Regions from separate parts of the Homo sapiens genome. Here region 1 is linked to region 2. The links come from fine-mapping of genetic effects on gene expression. A gene starts in region 2. The other region holds a variant in brackets. All regions are shown on one strand. Distances are between the middles of the regions.

Region 1 (8,335 bases), 130 kb after region 2:
TCTGTCAAACTGTCATTATGGGGTGCAGGGTGGAGGGGCTGTCACAGCGTCAGTTTGTCAGCAGAGATCTAGACCAGAAGGTCCCCTGGCCAGGGAGCTGGAAGACTAGTGTTCTAGGCTCGGCTAGTCATCAACTGGATAGGTCCCTGGACCTGTTTATTGTCTGTACATTGAAGGTGCAGGACCACCCAAGAATGTCCAAATGCTGACCCTTGGGCCAAATCCAACCTGCAATTGTGTTTTCTTTGGGCTACAAATTATTATTAACATTTTTATTTGCATATCTTTAGGAAGGGTGCGCACTCTCCGACCTACAGTCCCTCTGCTCAATACCAGCCCAGTTCCCGCCTTTAGGGAACCTGCTCTGTCCCTGTAGCCATCTGGGTCTGCAGCCTGGGAACTAGATGACATTAGTGCCTTCCTGGCACTGGCCTTCTGTGGTCCCGCCATTCTCAATGGCACTGTCTCACTTTCCATGCCTTCCTCAGTCACTGCACACTGCCCTACACAAATATTTGACAGGCCAGCCTCTTGAGTCAATTATTCCTTTCAGAAAACTGGAGAGAGAAATGATATAATTAACCACCTGAGAGAAAATGAACAGAGCGAGAAGCTATAAATACCAAGACCCACAATGAAGGGCGGAACCCCGGGGCCCCACTTGACCTTACCCAGCTGAGATGGTCTGACACCTTCCTGGGTGTAGGAGACCCGTGGGGCCAAGCTTGGCTGGGACTTACAGCCATGGCTTTCACACAGCAGGGTGAGAAGCAGCCCCCGAGACCCCAGGCTGAGCAGGCCAGGAAGCAACACCCCACACCCCTCTCCCCCATGTAGCCAGGATCAGAATCAACACCCTTGAAGGGTAAATCCTTTCCTCATGCACTTGTGCCCAGGAAGCAGATGTTCTGTCCCTACTCTGGGGTCTGGGCACTGTTGTGTAGTTGGATCCTTCCACCCTATCCTCAAACCACAGACCAGATAAATCGAATTGAACCGACTTCAAAGCAAACACTGAGCGGAGCCATCTGGGATTCATTCCTGAACCGGCCCTTTTCTAGTTATGTAACCACAGAGATGCAGACAGAAAGACACAGATTGGGAGAACTGGTTTTTGTTGTTGTTGTTGTTGTTAAACCTCCAAATCTTTGCAGTATTGGGATAATTATGGCTTTCATAGCATTGATTACTTTAAGCTGTCAGTAATTTGAATCCTTTTCAGAGTCAGTGACCAACATTTTGCAATTGAATTCTATCTTCCTGCTTCCATTCTGAGTAAAGGAAATAGAATGCTGAGCTCATAGGGCCTTCTTCAGAATGCCACATGCTGGGCACTTTGTGGTCACACCTAGAATGCTACAATGGACACATCTCCTAGGCATCCTCCTGGGTTCATTACACACTTCCTTCCCACGCCATAGTCTCATTCTGGAATGTTCATTAATCTCCTACCTGAAAGAGCAAGAAGAAATATGAAATTTTAGATAGGCCAGGGCTTTTGATGTGAATCATTCATGAATCACCCAAAACATTGTGGTTCATGGATAAAAGGCAAAGGCAAATACTGGATACTTTAAGAAGCTATACTGCCTACATCTATGCAATTTTTAAACATTTTATTTTCTGATTTAAAAGTAATACCTCTCCAATGTGAAAATTCTAAAAATTCTGAGGACTATGGAGAAGAAAATAATTGTTCCAAATCGTTGCTGGGGAGGATTATTCAAACAATAATTGATGCTAATATTTTAGCACATTTTTCCCCAGTTTTCGATTCATGCATATTTACATTTCTAGAACTAAGGCTATATTGCGTTTATAATTGTGTCCTATATTTTTACTGAAACATTTTCCACATAGTAAAAAACTTTATAACCTTAGTTTTCAGTAGCTACATAATTTCAAATAAAATAAATGTACCTTTTTTTTTTTTTTTTTTTTTTTTAGACAGCGTCTTACTCTGTCACCAGGCTGGAGTGCAGTGGCGTGATCTCAGCTCACTGCAACCTCCACCTCACGGTTGAAGTGATTCTTCTGCCTCAGCCTCCTGAGTAGCTGGGACTACAGGCATGCACCACCACGCCTGGCTAATTTTTGTATTTTTGGAACAGACGGGATTTCACCATGTTGGCCATGATGGTTTCGATCCCTTGACCTCATGATCCAACTGCCTTGGCCTCCCAAAGTGCTGGGATTACAGGCATGAGCCACCGTGCTCGGCCCATAACTTTTTTTAAAAACAAATCCCTTATTGTTGGACCAAAGGTTGTGTCTAATGTTTGGCTACTGTAAATGCTGTAGTGAATATCTTTAGCTATAAATTTCTATCTGCATTTCTCATTACTTTCATCAGATCTATTCCTAGAAGTATAATCAACTCTGCATCAAAGATCAAAATTTTTGAATGTTCTTAATACATTTCAGAAGGATTGAACCACCTTTTCACCATTAAGTATCAATGTTTTCTAAAACCTTACTATTTTGATAAATAAAAAATAGAATTTTATATTTGTATTAATTTGCTTTTCTTTAGATACCAGTTAAAATAATTATTTTTCCACATCTTTATTAACAATTTTTAATTTAGCCTATGAACTGAGGTTAAGGCTGATTATGCAAGTTCATGTGCAAAGATGTTCTCATCTCAGGGCAGACCATCTGATGACAAGAGTGGTAAAGGGCCAAGAAGAAGCTTAGCTGAGCTAGGACATCCAGAGGAGGAATAAGTGTGGGGTGATCCCCATTCCTGGTTATATTGGTTATCTTGCTGCATAACAAACTACCATTAAAACTGAATGGTTTCAAATAACAAACATTTATTATCTCACAGTTTCTGTAGGTCAGAAATTCAGGAGCAGTTTAGCTAGTGCTTCTGTCTTGGGGTCTCTTGGAAGGTTTCAGTGAAGATATTGGCTGGGGCTGCAGTCATCTGAAGGCTTGGCTGAGGCTTGGAGGAGCCACTTCTTAGATGACGAACTCACATGGCTGTTGGCAGGAGGCCTCAGTTCCTTACCATCTGGGCCTCTCCACAGAGCAGCTCACAATATGGCTGATGGCTTCTCCCAGAATGAGTGATTAGAGAGATAGATTGCTCTACTTATAGGTTAATAGGTTAATATATCTGTACCTTTTATAATTAAATCTTGAAAGTGACATACCAACACTTCTGCCATATTCTATTGGCCGTACAGAATCAATCTATTATAACATGGAAGGGAAGCATACAACAGTTGTGAAGACCAGCAGGTGAACACCACCAGAGGCCATCTTGAAAGCTGGCTCCCACACTGGCTATGAGTTTTCACTACTTTTTTTTTGAGGAGAAGAGGGAATTATGAGCAGATAGCAGAAACTCTATCACTGCTTACAATATGCTCAAGTTAACCATACATAACACCATTCTCATCATGAGGCTAAAGTCAGCCATTTCTTTTTGTCTCCATAAAACCTGCAATTAAAAGACCATAGCAAAAGATTTTCAGATAGAAATCTGGACTGGGTGTCCAACGCAGTTCAGATCCTGGTGTCTGGTTGGGACTGGTGGTGGTGGCAATAAATTCAAGCAGGCACTACCATGCAGAAGCTGCCTGAGCCCATCAATCCCATGTTCAGGTGCTTCAAGCTCTGTGGTATGAAAGGTCTGGTGGCAAATGTGGAGGGTGTACAGGGAGAAGAAAACTGCTGGACCATGGCTCAGGGGCCCCACAGGTGGGACAGAAACCTTAGGAGAGGTTTGCTTTTTTTTTTAAATAAAAGTGGGTGAGTAAATACAAGAAACCTCAATCCTGGAAGAGGGGCTTGAGGCTAGGAGAGGACAGGAAATAGGGTGTCACAGGTAAGAAATATGTTCTTACTAGAACCTTTGAATCTAAAAATATATGTGTCAGTGGGCATGATCATTAATATGTATGACTATTACCAAAATATGTTGTTGGCACCCATGCTAATTTTAGATGCTGCAGAATTAACCAAATGAGCTCTTCTCTTTTCTCTCCACATCCTCTCCCTTGACATTTTAATCAATCTTGTGACTTCATCTATATTTTTCGTGTGGTTGAATCCTAAATTTGTATTTCCAACCTTGCCATTTTTTCGCTACCACATTTCCAACTTCCTGCATGACATCGCAGCCTGGTTGACTCGTCAGCACTTCAAACTTAGTATGTACAGAACAGAAAGTATCTTCCCTCTGAAAACCGCTCCTTCTCCCATACTCCTTATTTTGATAAAGGCACCATCAGGCATCTAATTTTGAGACTCAAGATGGAGAAAGTAAATCTATTACGTAGATAAAGGGTTTCCTATCACGAGTAATTTAAAAAATTCATGTCTGAGTAGAAGTGGGCAGCCAGCAACAAGCAAGCTGAATAAATGTGTTCATTCAACAAATATTTATTAAGCACCTATTATGTTCCAGAAGGCACAGTTTTAGGCATTGGAGCTTACTGATAAATAAATCAGGCAAGAGTCTCTGGCTTCATGGAGCTTCATTCTAGAGGTGCTAGACCTCTGAGTTTGGCCTAGGAGTAGCAAATTGTACCCTCTTACCAGACCATCAGGTCAAATCAAAA[G/C]AGACAGATTGCTCTGCTCTGTCCTACTATGAGCTAAAGGGTGTTCTGCTATTAGCACTGGGTTCTGGAGTATCAGGCAAAAAGTGACATCATAGAGGATGGCAAGAAGTGACAAGAGCCCAAAGAATGTGACTAAGCAAGTGTGGCAGGCTGCATAATGACCCCTGAAAGATGTTCTTGTCCTAATCCCAGAGTTTGTGATTATGTACTCAAACGGGGCTTTGTAGCTGTGATTAAGGATCTTGAGATGATGAGGTGAATTCAATGTAAGCACAAGGCAGAGGAAGGCAAGATTAAACAAAGAAAGATGAGATGGGATGATGAAAGAAGAGGTTGTGGTTATGCACTTTGAAGATGGAGGAAAGGGCCATGAGCCAAGGAATGCTGACAGCTTCTAGAAGCTGAAAAATTCCAGATTCTTCTCTGGAGAATATAGGCCTGCCAACCAAAACCTTGATTTTATTTATTTATTTATTTTTCTTCTTTTTCTTTTATTTTCAGTTGACATGTAATAATTGTGCATATTTACTGAATACAGAGGGATATTTCTATCCATGTATATATACCATGTGTAATGATCAAATCAGAGTAATCAACATGTCTCCTAGCAATAAACACATCTCCTGGTAATAAACGCTTACCATTTCTTTGAAACACCTGCATTTTAGATTCATTTCAGACTTCTGTCCTCCAGAACTATAAAATAAATTTGTGTTGTTTAAGCCACTAAGTTCGTGGTAATTTGTTACAGAAGCAATAGGGTACTACTAGTACAGCAAGCCAGCAGGTTGGCTTGCTACGATTCCATAGGTATCCAAAGTAGATAGTGAGACTCAAGTCAGTTTATTATCCACAACACAGCAAACTGGAGGAACATCAGTAATAGAGGTGATTCCCTATCCCCAAGTTCCACAGGAGACATGATAGGCACAGAGGGCAACCATGCACACAGTGGATTATGCCACAGCTAAGGAATCCAGGGCCAAGAACTCAGCACCTTTTACATCATGCAGTGAACAACTCAATTGCCCTCCACCGGGGAGTGAGTGTTCAGCACAGCAGTCTTGCTATGGTCACCTTGACCTGCTTAATGGTCCACATGACTAATTGCAATAAAGGCTCAGGGTGAGAAGGCTGCTAGGTCTTGCAGTTTGGCACTCTCAGCAGGGGCGTGCAGGGATGCTTGGGGCTCATATGGGGCTGCTTCTTCCCACAGGCAGCTCTCCCAACCTCAGCCTAGCCCTACCAGGCTCTAGAAACTGCCTTGATTCACCTAGGAGAGGTTCATTTTCAGACCCCAGCAAATGCTTCTTTGTCTTCCAAGCAGTTCATTTTGGCTGCCAGAACCTGAAAAGTTCTTGCCCAAGGTTGAGAATTAGACAGAGATGTTCCCACATGGGGCTGTACAAATGCCCACACAGTCTACTGTGGGCCAAGCAAGGTCAGCACGCAGTTGTAAATGCTACCCTGACAAAGCCAGCAAGTTACTGGAGCTGAGCCTCAATAGAATCTTTGTACAGTACAGCTGGTCGCTTAACTCTAGGTGCCCATGGGAGACCTGGAGGACAGATTAACCAGGCCAGCAGCCTCAGGGGAGGGACTGAGGCTCAGCCTCTTTGTCATAACCAATCAGGTGTGAGGGAGGAAGATAGCATTAAGAAATAGCCTCCCGGATATTTCTTTTAGTACAGAATTTGAATTTACTCCTAAGAGGAAGCTACTGGGGCCTGAGCAGTGATTGCCATTGATTCCAGGGCTCTGGGAGCTAAGATTCTAGGCAATAAAGGACTTAAGTGTGTGCATGTGTGTATAAACCCTTGGCATGGAAAAAATATGAAAAAAGAAGATCCAGAGGCATTTCTTATTTTACTCTAAGACAGTCCATTTGAAGATGACCCTTATTCCAGAATACTATCCAAGCCAGGACAACAGTTTCTCCGCAGTGTTTGAGAACAGGCTCCCTTCCTGCCAAGGCATGATTTTTCTGGTGGTTGGTGGTATGATTTAGGGATAACTTGGTGGTACAATGGAGATTACAAATCCCTTCACTAGACATTAAAGAACTACATCTATATTGTATTCACATATCAATGATATTCAAACAAAGCAACAGGAAACAAGATATATTCTAGTCTAAACTCAAAGATAAGAACATCTTTTGGTTTCAAAAACATATGTAGTAAAGCCCTATTAGGTAATATATTTATTTAACTAAATTTTAGAATTTAGTGTAAACTACTCCCATGGAAGATTTGCAATCAGATGTTTCAGCCAGTAACTAAAATGTGCATTCCCCAAAGGTTCAAGAGGTAGGCGACAGACACTCACAATGAGACACTGAGTACCGAGGCAGGGAAGTCAGCCGTGTAGGCAGGGACTCCTTTTCTGCTGCCTCCTAACACCCAGAACAGTGCCAGGTATACAGTAAAGACTCAGTAAATGTTTGTTGAATGGATTAATGAGCAAAAGACATCCTCTTCTTTGAAGGCTGGCCTAGACACTGTTCTAGCACATGAATGTAAAAATCTCACTAAGAAAAATAGCAAATTGAAAAATAATATTTATCATATGATACATGTTTTGCTTAATGAAAAAAATCTCACCTGGCACAGTGGATCATGCCTGTAATCCCAGGACTTCGGGACGCTAAGGTGGGTGGATCTCTTGAGGCCAGGAGTTTGAGATCAGCCTGGGCAACATGACGAAACCCCATCTCCACAAAAAGTTTAAACAATAGCCAGGCACGGTGGCACACACCTGTGGTCCTAGCTACTCGGGAGGCTGAGGTGGGAGGATCACTTGAGCCCACAGAATTTGAGGCTTCAGTGAGCTGTGATCTCACCACTGGACTCAAGCATGGGCTGCAGAGTAAGACCCTGTTTCCAAAACAACAACAACAACAAAAAAAAAAAACCCCAACTCTGTACATTTAGAAGTGCACAGAAAAAAGTGCTACTGAAAGGTTATACTTTGCACTGTTAACCACGGCTACCTCTGAAGACTGGCACTGACTTAGGTAAGAGTCCTACCACATTTTGCATAATTTATGCATTTCTGCATTGTTTAACCTGGTAAAATAAGTTTGTATTACTTTCATTGGTTAGAAAATCAAGATTTTTTTTCAGACCTCACTTAAATAATACTCTCTAATATGTGATTTGATGGAAAAGAATGTTAACTTTTTATTAAAAGAGAAATCAAAGTTTAGAACAGTTCATCATTTCTGAAGGTCAAGATAATCTCCTAACTTCTGATCAAATGGATCTCTATCCACCAGGCCAGTGGTAAGTTATTTTCTAAAATGCTATTTTAAAAAGCTAGTAGAATGTTAAGAACTTCATTAGGTTCAATATTTATTTATTCAATCAATATTTATTGAGTGCTATGCTTACCTTATGGGCTTTTCTGTAAAACAGGGATTGTAGTACAAAGTGTAATATGGTGGAAAGAAGTCGGGGTTCTATGTGGATTTTTTTAAAGTCAATTCCTGTCAGAATTGGAATCTCAGACTGTGGCATTTCCTTGTCAAGGCTGATTGTTACAGCTTATTGTTCATCTCAGTACTTTATTTCCATTCCATCTCATGGGTAGAATGTCCATGTAACAGGATGTGGTCATATGATGTTTCTCCTGTAAACTTATCATAACTGCAACTGTAGATACACAACAATCCATACACTCAATGAAAATAAACTTTCCAATGAGGGCTCAAACTAACCACCTTCGAGAATTGCTCTTTCTGATTGTATTTTAAGGCCATTAAA
Region 2 (8,335 bases):
CATGGAGATACCCACTTCACCCGTTGTTGAAATTAGCTTGGCGCATGGGAACCAGCATGAGTGGCAGGTAATGTTACACCACAGGAGAATGCTGAAGTGGAGTGCCCTAGACAGCCAGAGAAAAATTTTAGATCATCTTGGGGCTCCCAAGGATCAGGACAGATAAGGAGGGGGACTAAGGGTGTAAAAGCATGGGGTGGGAGTAGGGATGATCACAAATTTGTCCAGAAATAATTCTGGAGGAGTCCCGACTTATGCCTTTTTACTGAAGGTGATGTGCAGAGTCTGAACCTGAAAGTCTCAAAATTGTGAACAAGTTGAGGTTTCAAATCCAGAAGGGCGAATCCCCCTTATGTTGTTCTGTCAGCAGAAACCGTCCCCCCTCACTTCCCCAATGTGTATGCTCTGTTAAGACAATGGGCTTCCTTTGAGGGCTTCTGGGGTGAAAAAGATAGAGGAAAATGAATATATCAAACATTTTATCAGTGTCTACTGCATGCAGAATAGACAAAGAACTAAGTGAGTGGAGGTTCAAAAACTAACAGAAAAAGAGAAGCAACCCAAATGTCCACCAATGGATGGATGGATAAACAAAATGTGGCATATACATTCAATGGAACATTATTCAGCCGTAAAAAAGAAGATATTCTGATACATGCTTCCACAAGGACGACCCTTAAAGACATTATGCTAAGAGAAATAAGTCAGACACAATGGACAAATGTGATTATGATTCCACTCAGATGATGTACCTAGAGTAGATACATTCATAGAGACAGAAAGTAGAATAGTAGTTGCCAGGGGCTGGCGAAAGGTTGGGGGGAGTAGAAAGATGGTTGGGGAAATGGGGAGTTACTTTTTAACGCGTACAAAATTTCAGTTTCGGATGATGGAAAAGTTCTGGAAATGGATAGTGGTAATAGTTGCACAACAATGTTAATGTACTTAATGCCTCTAAACTATACACTTAAGATGATTAAAATGGTAAATTACGTATATTTTACAACCCTACTCGCCCCTTCCCCTACTACCCTAGTAAACAATAAACAACTCAGAGCCCAGGTTTTGGCCCCCACACTCTTGATTTTAACAGGAATGGAAATGCCTGTAGCCCCAAGGAAGGACAGCGAAGGCTAAATGGGCCCTGGGGCAGCGACTCCCGGCATCCCTCCCTTTCGCGGGGGCGTCAGGAGGACCTCATCATCGGGCAGAATAACTACCTACCTGGCTACCCACGGGACGGAGCACCCTCAGGCCAGGCACTCGCGTTTTCTTCTGTCTCTTTTCAGGGCTCACAGTGACAGGTACAAACACTATCGCAATACAGCCTTCTAGAATGACTCTTCAAAGGAGGGTCGAGGCGCCAGGGGAACCGCTGGGGTTGAAAACACGTTCATGTTCACGTTCATGGGTAAAATCCTGGGATGCACAAGGAATAGCCTAGGTTCCTTCCCCGTAAGTCTGAGCCCCCAGGTCTCTTCCAGCCTTCATCCCCCTAAGGAGGTCCCTGGGCTTGGGGCGCTCATGGTCAGGGGCAAAGGACAAAGGGCGGAGGCAGGGAGCCTCCCGACGGTGGCGCAGCCTCTCCGGCTCTCACCTAGCGTAATCCACGTGACCCCCGCGCAGGGGCTCCTGGAGGGCCCAAACCGCTCGTGGGGGGAAAAAGCCTCAGCCTGCAGTCCAAGGACCTGCCTCCACTACCGCCCAGTCCCGGGCCCCCGCAGCCGGTGGGAGGGACGCCCGGGAGCCGGCTGCCCACACTCGAGAAACACAGGCTGCTGGGCGAGTTCCCCGCGCGGGCCGAGCTCCCAGGGAGTTGCCGGCCCGGGCGCGAGGGCCCGCAGGTCGTCGCACCGCCGCCAGGGGGCAACTCTGCCCTACGCAGGCACCACCGGGACCCGCCGCCCGCCACTTTCCGCGTCCACGCGAGCGGGTTGCGCCGGACGGGGGTCTTCGCGTCGCTTCCCCGGCTCGCCTCTGGGAAAGGTTTTGGTCCCTTGTACCAGCTTGGGGGCGGGGAGCCGGGGGAGAGTTACCAGCTGGGGCCGAAAGCTGGGAGCGCTGTAGAGAAGGAGGCCCGGGGTAGGGGACGATGGGGGAGACAAGGGGGTCGCGCAAGACGTGAATCGCTTGAGTTTCCGCGCTCGGGGAATTTCGCGACTGCGGAGCTAAAGGTTGCATACAAACATGTAGCTTAACTAAGCAAACAAAACAAGTGGTCACATCCACATGTGGGGCTTCAGTAAAGCTCGCCTAAATCTTAGTGACACTTCTCCGTCTCTGCAGCGGTCCCTCTGGGCTGATCTTCCACTCTGACCTTCAGTAAGTCCTAAAACTTTCCCCGGAGTGGCCAGGAGATAATTCGCCACATTCTGCAAACGTTTCCAGGGAAGAGCCTCTTAACCCTTTGGGGGAAGAACTTGCGGACAAAGTTACAAACGAACGCAGTCTATCTCCCGCGCCATGAACGGAATGATGGCTGTAACCGGTCATCTAAAGTCATTAATGGTCTGCGAACAAATTCTTCCTCTCTGTTTCATCTTTGAATAACTTCGCCACACACCAACCCTCAGTGCTGCGAAAGTCATGGTGTTTATTTAGATATCGACTGAGTACTTATAAAACTTAAACTTTCCAATGTAAAAGTGAACTCCTTGGTAAGGACTCCTGGCTGCATCAACAAAGCAATGTGATGCCTGATTAATAGTGCTGATTAATGTTGGCTCAGGTTAATGCTCAGCCTATTACAGTAATTAAATTGTTCACCCATATATCAAACAAGAGTTAATGAAAAATAATTTATTTAGAACGTCGAGGCTTTCTCATAGATTGTTCAAAGACCTATGATAGCCTTTATGGGTCACTTGTAAGAGTAACTGGTGGTAGCAGTCCTCAGCAACAAAAACTCGATTTTAATAGAGGTCTTTAGATGGGGAAACAGTTTATTTCTGAGGCTCTGTGATTGACAGCGGTAGTAATGACACGTTTCAGAATGTGAAAAGTACTTGGTCGATAAAATGATATACACAAGGGCAGCTGATGGCTGTTCCTACAGAACGCCATTGAATTTTGATTCTTAGTTCTTGTCAAGGGGTCATTTTAATCAGAAAGTTAAACTTTTGGGACAAGCTCCCCTCTTTGAAATAGAAGCATTTTAGGAAATGCACAAATAAGTGAATGTGAATTCAACAAACTATTAGGATTTTTCCACTAGCCAAAATAGCTCGTTTGAGTTGGTGATAAAGATAGGTATATTTAAAAGAGCATCATATCTTAATTATTTCCACTATCTTGTCACCCGAAAAGAAAACTGAATTGAGCGGAACTTTAATCTCATAAAAAAAATTTTCATCTCACCAGAAAGGATTAACAATATTTAAGGATTTTCCAAAAACACATTTTTAAAAAGTTTATCTTAAAGTCATCTATCATTATAGTTTCTATTAATAAGCCTCAGTAGAAATATGTATATGTTATGTAATTTAAGTATTTTGAGATTACTATGCAAAGTGCTGACTAGAATGTTCCTCCTACTGAGAACTATATAGCCCCATTATGAACGAACTTCTGTTTTTTTTTTTTTTTTTTGAGGCGGAGTTTCGCTCTTGTTGCCCAGGCTGGAGTGCAGTGGCACGATCTCGGCTCACTGCAACCTCCGCATCCCGGGTCCAAGCGATTCTCCTGCCTCGGCCTCCCGAGTAGCTGGGATTACAGGCGCCGCCTACTAATTTTTTTCTATTTTTAGTAGAGACGGGGTTTCACCATGTTGGCCAGGCTGGTCGAACTTTTTAGTAGTTTCTAGGTGCAATTTTTGTGCGTGTATTTGGGTTTTCACTAAAAATTTCAATTTCTTCTCCGAATTCAATTATTACGTTCTTTATTCCCATGACATTTGTCAGATCGTCTCATTAGAGTGGCTTAGTTTAACTGTCAAGTCTCTAGGGCATTCAATCGCAGAGAAGTGAGTAAAACGCCAGTCTCACAGCGTTTTTATTAACAGATGGCGGAAAACAAACGTCTTTGGAGTAAAACCGAAGAGAATGGGTTAAAGGGTCAATAAACAATTATTATCGTGCTTAAATTGGGGGGCTTCGCATCAGATCCAATGGGGGGCCGCTCGCCCGATCTGGAGGGGCTGGACACCCCCAACCGACCCCAGAGCGTCCCCCAGGGGCCACCTCAGAGGATGGGGTGGTTATCCCCCGGCTGGAAGGCTCCTACAGGCTGTCGAGGGGTCAAACCAGAGTGTCGCGGGTGTGCTTCTGAGGTTAGGGTGGAGGACTAATTGAGGAGGCTGGGAAGTCTAACTCGTGCAGCGGCCCTCGGTGCAGACAGCCGCGTAATTCGGGCATCAGCCTCTTTGGCAAGAAATAGTGAGGTCCCCTCTCCTCCCCACTCTTCTCAGCTGCTGCCTCCCTCCTACGGGTGAATTTTCTCTCCCGAGAAGGGCTGATTTCCTAGGCTTGCTTTCCTTCCCTCGGCAGCGCTCTGACGTGCACACCATGTGACAGGCCCCCTTCTGCTATAAGCCGAGGAAGGTCCGCCCTCTCCTGGACTCAGCCCTGGCCTCGCCGAGCTCTGTTCTTAGACTCTCACCCGTCCCGCACGTTCCTGGGCGCCTGGCGTTCTGATTCGCCCGCCCGGGCCCCGCCACCCCCTCCTCAGCTGACGGGGCAAAAGCTGCTCCGAGAGGAGAAGGTCAAGTCCTCCGCCCGGGCCGGGCGCGAGCGGAGCCCAGGGAGCGCAGCATCCGCGCGGCTACCGCGGCGGCGCAGGAGTTATAAAGTCGGCGCGCGAGACTCCGCCGCCACCCGGCAGCCCCGGCGCAGCTCCGGCAGCCGCAGTCGCAGCGCCCCCAGCGTGGCGCCCCCCGGCCGGGCCTGCCGCCCGGGACCCGGGCTGGGGCGCAGAGGGAGCCCGGAGCCCGGCGCCCCCATGCGCCGCCCCGCCGCCGCCGCGCCACAGCTATGACCCTGAGCACTGAGATGTCCGATGCCTCTGGCCTCGCCGAGGAAACAGACATCGACGTGGTGGGGGAGGGCGAGGACGAAGAAGACGAGGAAGAGGAGGACGACGACGAGGGCGGCGGTGGCGGGCCCCGGCTGGCTGTCCCCGCGCAGCGGCGGCGGCGGCGGCGCTCGTACGCCGGGGAGGACGAGCTGGAGGATCTGGAGGAGGAGGAGGACGACGATGACATCCTGCTGGCCCCGCCTGCTGGGGGCTCCCCGGCGCCCCCGGGCCCGGCCCCGGCGGCGGGGGCAGGAGCCGGTGGGGGCGGCGGCGGCGGCGGCGCGGGCGGCGGCGGGAGCGCGGGTAGCGGCGCCAAGAACCCGCTGGTGAAGCCGCCCTACTCGTATATCGCGCTCATCACTATGGCCATCCTGCAGAGCCCCAAGAAGCGGCTGACGCTGAGCGAGATCTGTGAGTTCATCAGCGGCCGCTTCCCCTACTACCGGGAGAAGTTCCCCGCCTGGCAGAACAGCATCCGCCACAACCTCTCGCTCAACGACTGCTTCGTCAAGATCCCCCGCGAGCCCGGCAACCCGGGCAAGGGCAACTACTGGACGCTGGACCCGGAGTCCGCCGACATGTTCGACAACGGCAGCTTCCTGCGCCGGAGGAAGCGCTTCAAGCGGCAGCCGCTGCTCCCACCCAACGCCGCGGCCGCCGAGTCTCTGCTGCTGCGCGGCGCGGGAGCCGCAGGGGGCGCGGGCGACCCGGCAGCCGCCGCCGCGCTCTTCCCGCCCGCGCCCCCGCCGCCCCCGCATGCCTACGGCTACGGCCCCTACGGCTGCGGCTACGGCCTGCAGCTGCCGCCTTACGCGCCGCCCTCGGCCCTCTTCGCCGCCGCAGCGGCCGCCGCCGCCGCCGCCGCCTTCCACCCGCACTCGCCCCCGCCGCCCCCGCCACCGCACGGCGCGGCCGCCGAGCTGGCCCGGACCGCCTTCGGCTACCGGCCGCACCCGCTCGGCGCCGCCCTACCCGGCCCCCTGCCGGCCTCCGCGGCCAAGGCGGGCGGCCCGGGCGCCTCAGCGCTGGCGCGCTCGCCCTTCTCCATCGAGAGCATCATCGGGGGCAGCTTGGGCCCGGCCGCCGCTGCCGCCGCCGCCGCGCAGGCCGCCGCCGCCGCTCAGGCCTCGCCCTCGCCCTCGCCGGTGGCGGCGCCGCCAGCTCCCGGATCCAGCGGAGGAGGCTGCGCGGCGCAGGCGGCCGTGGGCCCGGCGGCCGCGCTCACCCGATCCCTCGTGGCCGCCGCGGCCGCCGCCGCCTCCTCAGTCTCCTCGTCCGCCGCCTTGGGGACTCTGCACCAAGGGACTGCCCTGTCCAGTGTCGAGAACTTTACTGCTAGGATTTCCAATTGTTAATAACGCTATGTTAGCGCGCTCGAGGAAGAAGGTAGGAATCCCGGCTCCTTTTCTCGTCTTGGTGGTTCGGTGTTTTGTTCGCTCCTCCAGGCGCGGCCCCTCTCGACCTCGCGCGCCCATTTTCGCCGCTGCGAATTCTCGGACAAAACTGTCAACAGCCCGGGCGCGCCTTTTGGCTCTGCGGGTCCCTCTATTTATGCAAAGCCGACCTATGCTACAGCCCCCCAACCCCCGACCTGGGGTAGGGAGGAAGAGGGTGCCGGGGAAGGGAGTCCGCCCTGTCCAGGCACTAGAGGCTCCCTTGACGTTTGGCAGATGAAAAACAACTAAGCCTTTTTGAGGTGTAGAGATTCTCAGGTCCAGGCGTTAAAAAATAATGGTCAAAAGAATAATACAAAAATAGTAAAGGTCTTGAAGAATGCCAGCGAAGCAATTCTTTTTTATTTGAGGACACTTGTCTGGTGTACTTTTTCATGAAAAGGAAAAATGGTTAACATGTTTACACAAGAAAAAAAGTCAAAATTATCATTTATTTCAACCTGTGTTTTGTATCATAACAGACGTGTGGATTTTTTTGTACTTACTGCGTATTCTTTACAAGGAGTATTGTAAATTTTACTGGCAATTATTATTGTACTATTCTAAATGTAAGATTTTTACACTTTTTCAGAAATAAAAATGCTTAATTTTCAAAGAAAATTCACCAAAATGATTGGCTTCAGTTGTCCCCTTCTTAGTTTTTCTTTTCTACTTAAAAAAACTTTCTATGTGGGGTAAGCAGGAACTCAATATAGAACAGACTTAAATACTTTCAGAGAGAATTTAACAACAGCATCATGCCATGATTTTTCACTTGAACTTCCTAAGTGAAAACCATGGTAGGAGATCAGAAATTATTTTTAAATGACTACAAATAAAATAAGTTACTTTGGTATACATTTTCAGATCTGACTCTATGCCATTTTAAAGCGCATTGAAGTATGTTAAAATTAAAGCCACAGGTACCCAAAGATAATTTTATAGGAACTTTGCATTTCATTTTTGAGCTTCCTTCCTCATTTAATTTCCACTCAGTTCACGACAATATTATATCTGCAGAAACTGTCAACATAATATGTTGTAATGGAAGTGAAACAAAGAGGCAGTCTAGTTTTAAAATTCTAATAGGAAAAATTAGTAGAGATCATAATCAGTTAAGGAGCTTCAAAGCCGTAAATAAGGACATATTTGCATATATGAAATAAATCATATTTAAAAGTACCAGTATTTACAGCTACTATGTTGCAGATGGAAGGAATGCGAGTAATTGTATAAAGAGGTTTTTCTCTTAAAAGGCCAATTTATTGAAATTCTAGCTTAAGTGAATAATTTAGGGTATTTAAGATAAACCTTCAACTTTGGGATGCTTTAAAGAATAAAAAATGAAAATGTATCAGGTGTTCATTGAACTAATTTATTGAATTTAGGTGATTTAGGTTTATCTTTTTCAATTTTTAATGTCTTTTAATTATTACATGAAATTTCTAGTTCTTTGAAAAAAAGTGAGGCACTAGTTTTGATTACTACAATGTTGTGCGCTCCAAATAAAACCTAGGCATATGTAACACATAATTTAAATGTCTAACATTAGTGTTTGCAGCAGAGATTAAATATTCAATTTCTTTAAAATGTCTGGACAGGTATATATCTGAAGATTCGCAGATTTAACTTACCAAGTTAATGAAATCTGCATTATAGGGTCAATATGTTGCAATGATACTCATTCATGACGCCCTGTCTCTTTTTAGGGAGAAAACGGACTCTCACGGGCTCAAATGAAGTTCTTCCCCGTCCCCGCAACCCTTGTTAAATGTTTGGAGGAGGTTAAACCCTCTCACTCTCAAACTTACCACTAAATCTATAGATACAAATTGAAATACTGTTAGACCAAAGTCTTATATACAAAAGTTACTTTTACTCTAGCCCGGCTA

Alleles and levels. Positions count from the first base shown, and alleles are read on the strand shown. Sizes are in standard deviations (SD) of each study's normalised expression.
In carriers of allele G in region 1, the expression in fibroblasts of the gene that starts at base 4,553 in region 2 tends to be higher than with C alone (small effect, 0.37 SD a copy in GTEx).

What was found. PIP is the estimated chance that this variant, and not a neighbour inherited with it, causes the effect.
Region 1: its variant is the best candidate, but not a certain one, in a credible set for the expression of FOXD1 in fibroblasts (GTEx, PIP 0.71).

Annotation. Positions count from the first base shown.
Region 1 is chr5:73,315,004-73,323,338 of GRCh38, reverse strand. No RefSeq gene overlaps it. Among named protein-coding and RNA genes, the nearest start is that of LINC02230, 19 kb to the left of the region's middle. RefSeq lists enhancers at 844-1,451, 732-1,931. The variant G/C (reference allele first, on the strand shown) is at 4,572.
Region 2 is chr5:73,444,995-73,453,329 of GRCh38, reverse strand. It overlaps FOXD1 (forkhead box D1), which reads left to right and starts at 4,553. Exons shown (of 1, transcript NM_004472.3): 1 at 4,553-7,064. The coding sequence starts at 4,968. The coding sequence ends at 6,365. RefSeq lists a silencer at 1,744-1,953 and an enhancer at 7,901-8,335.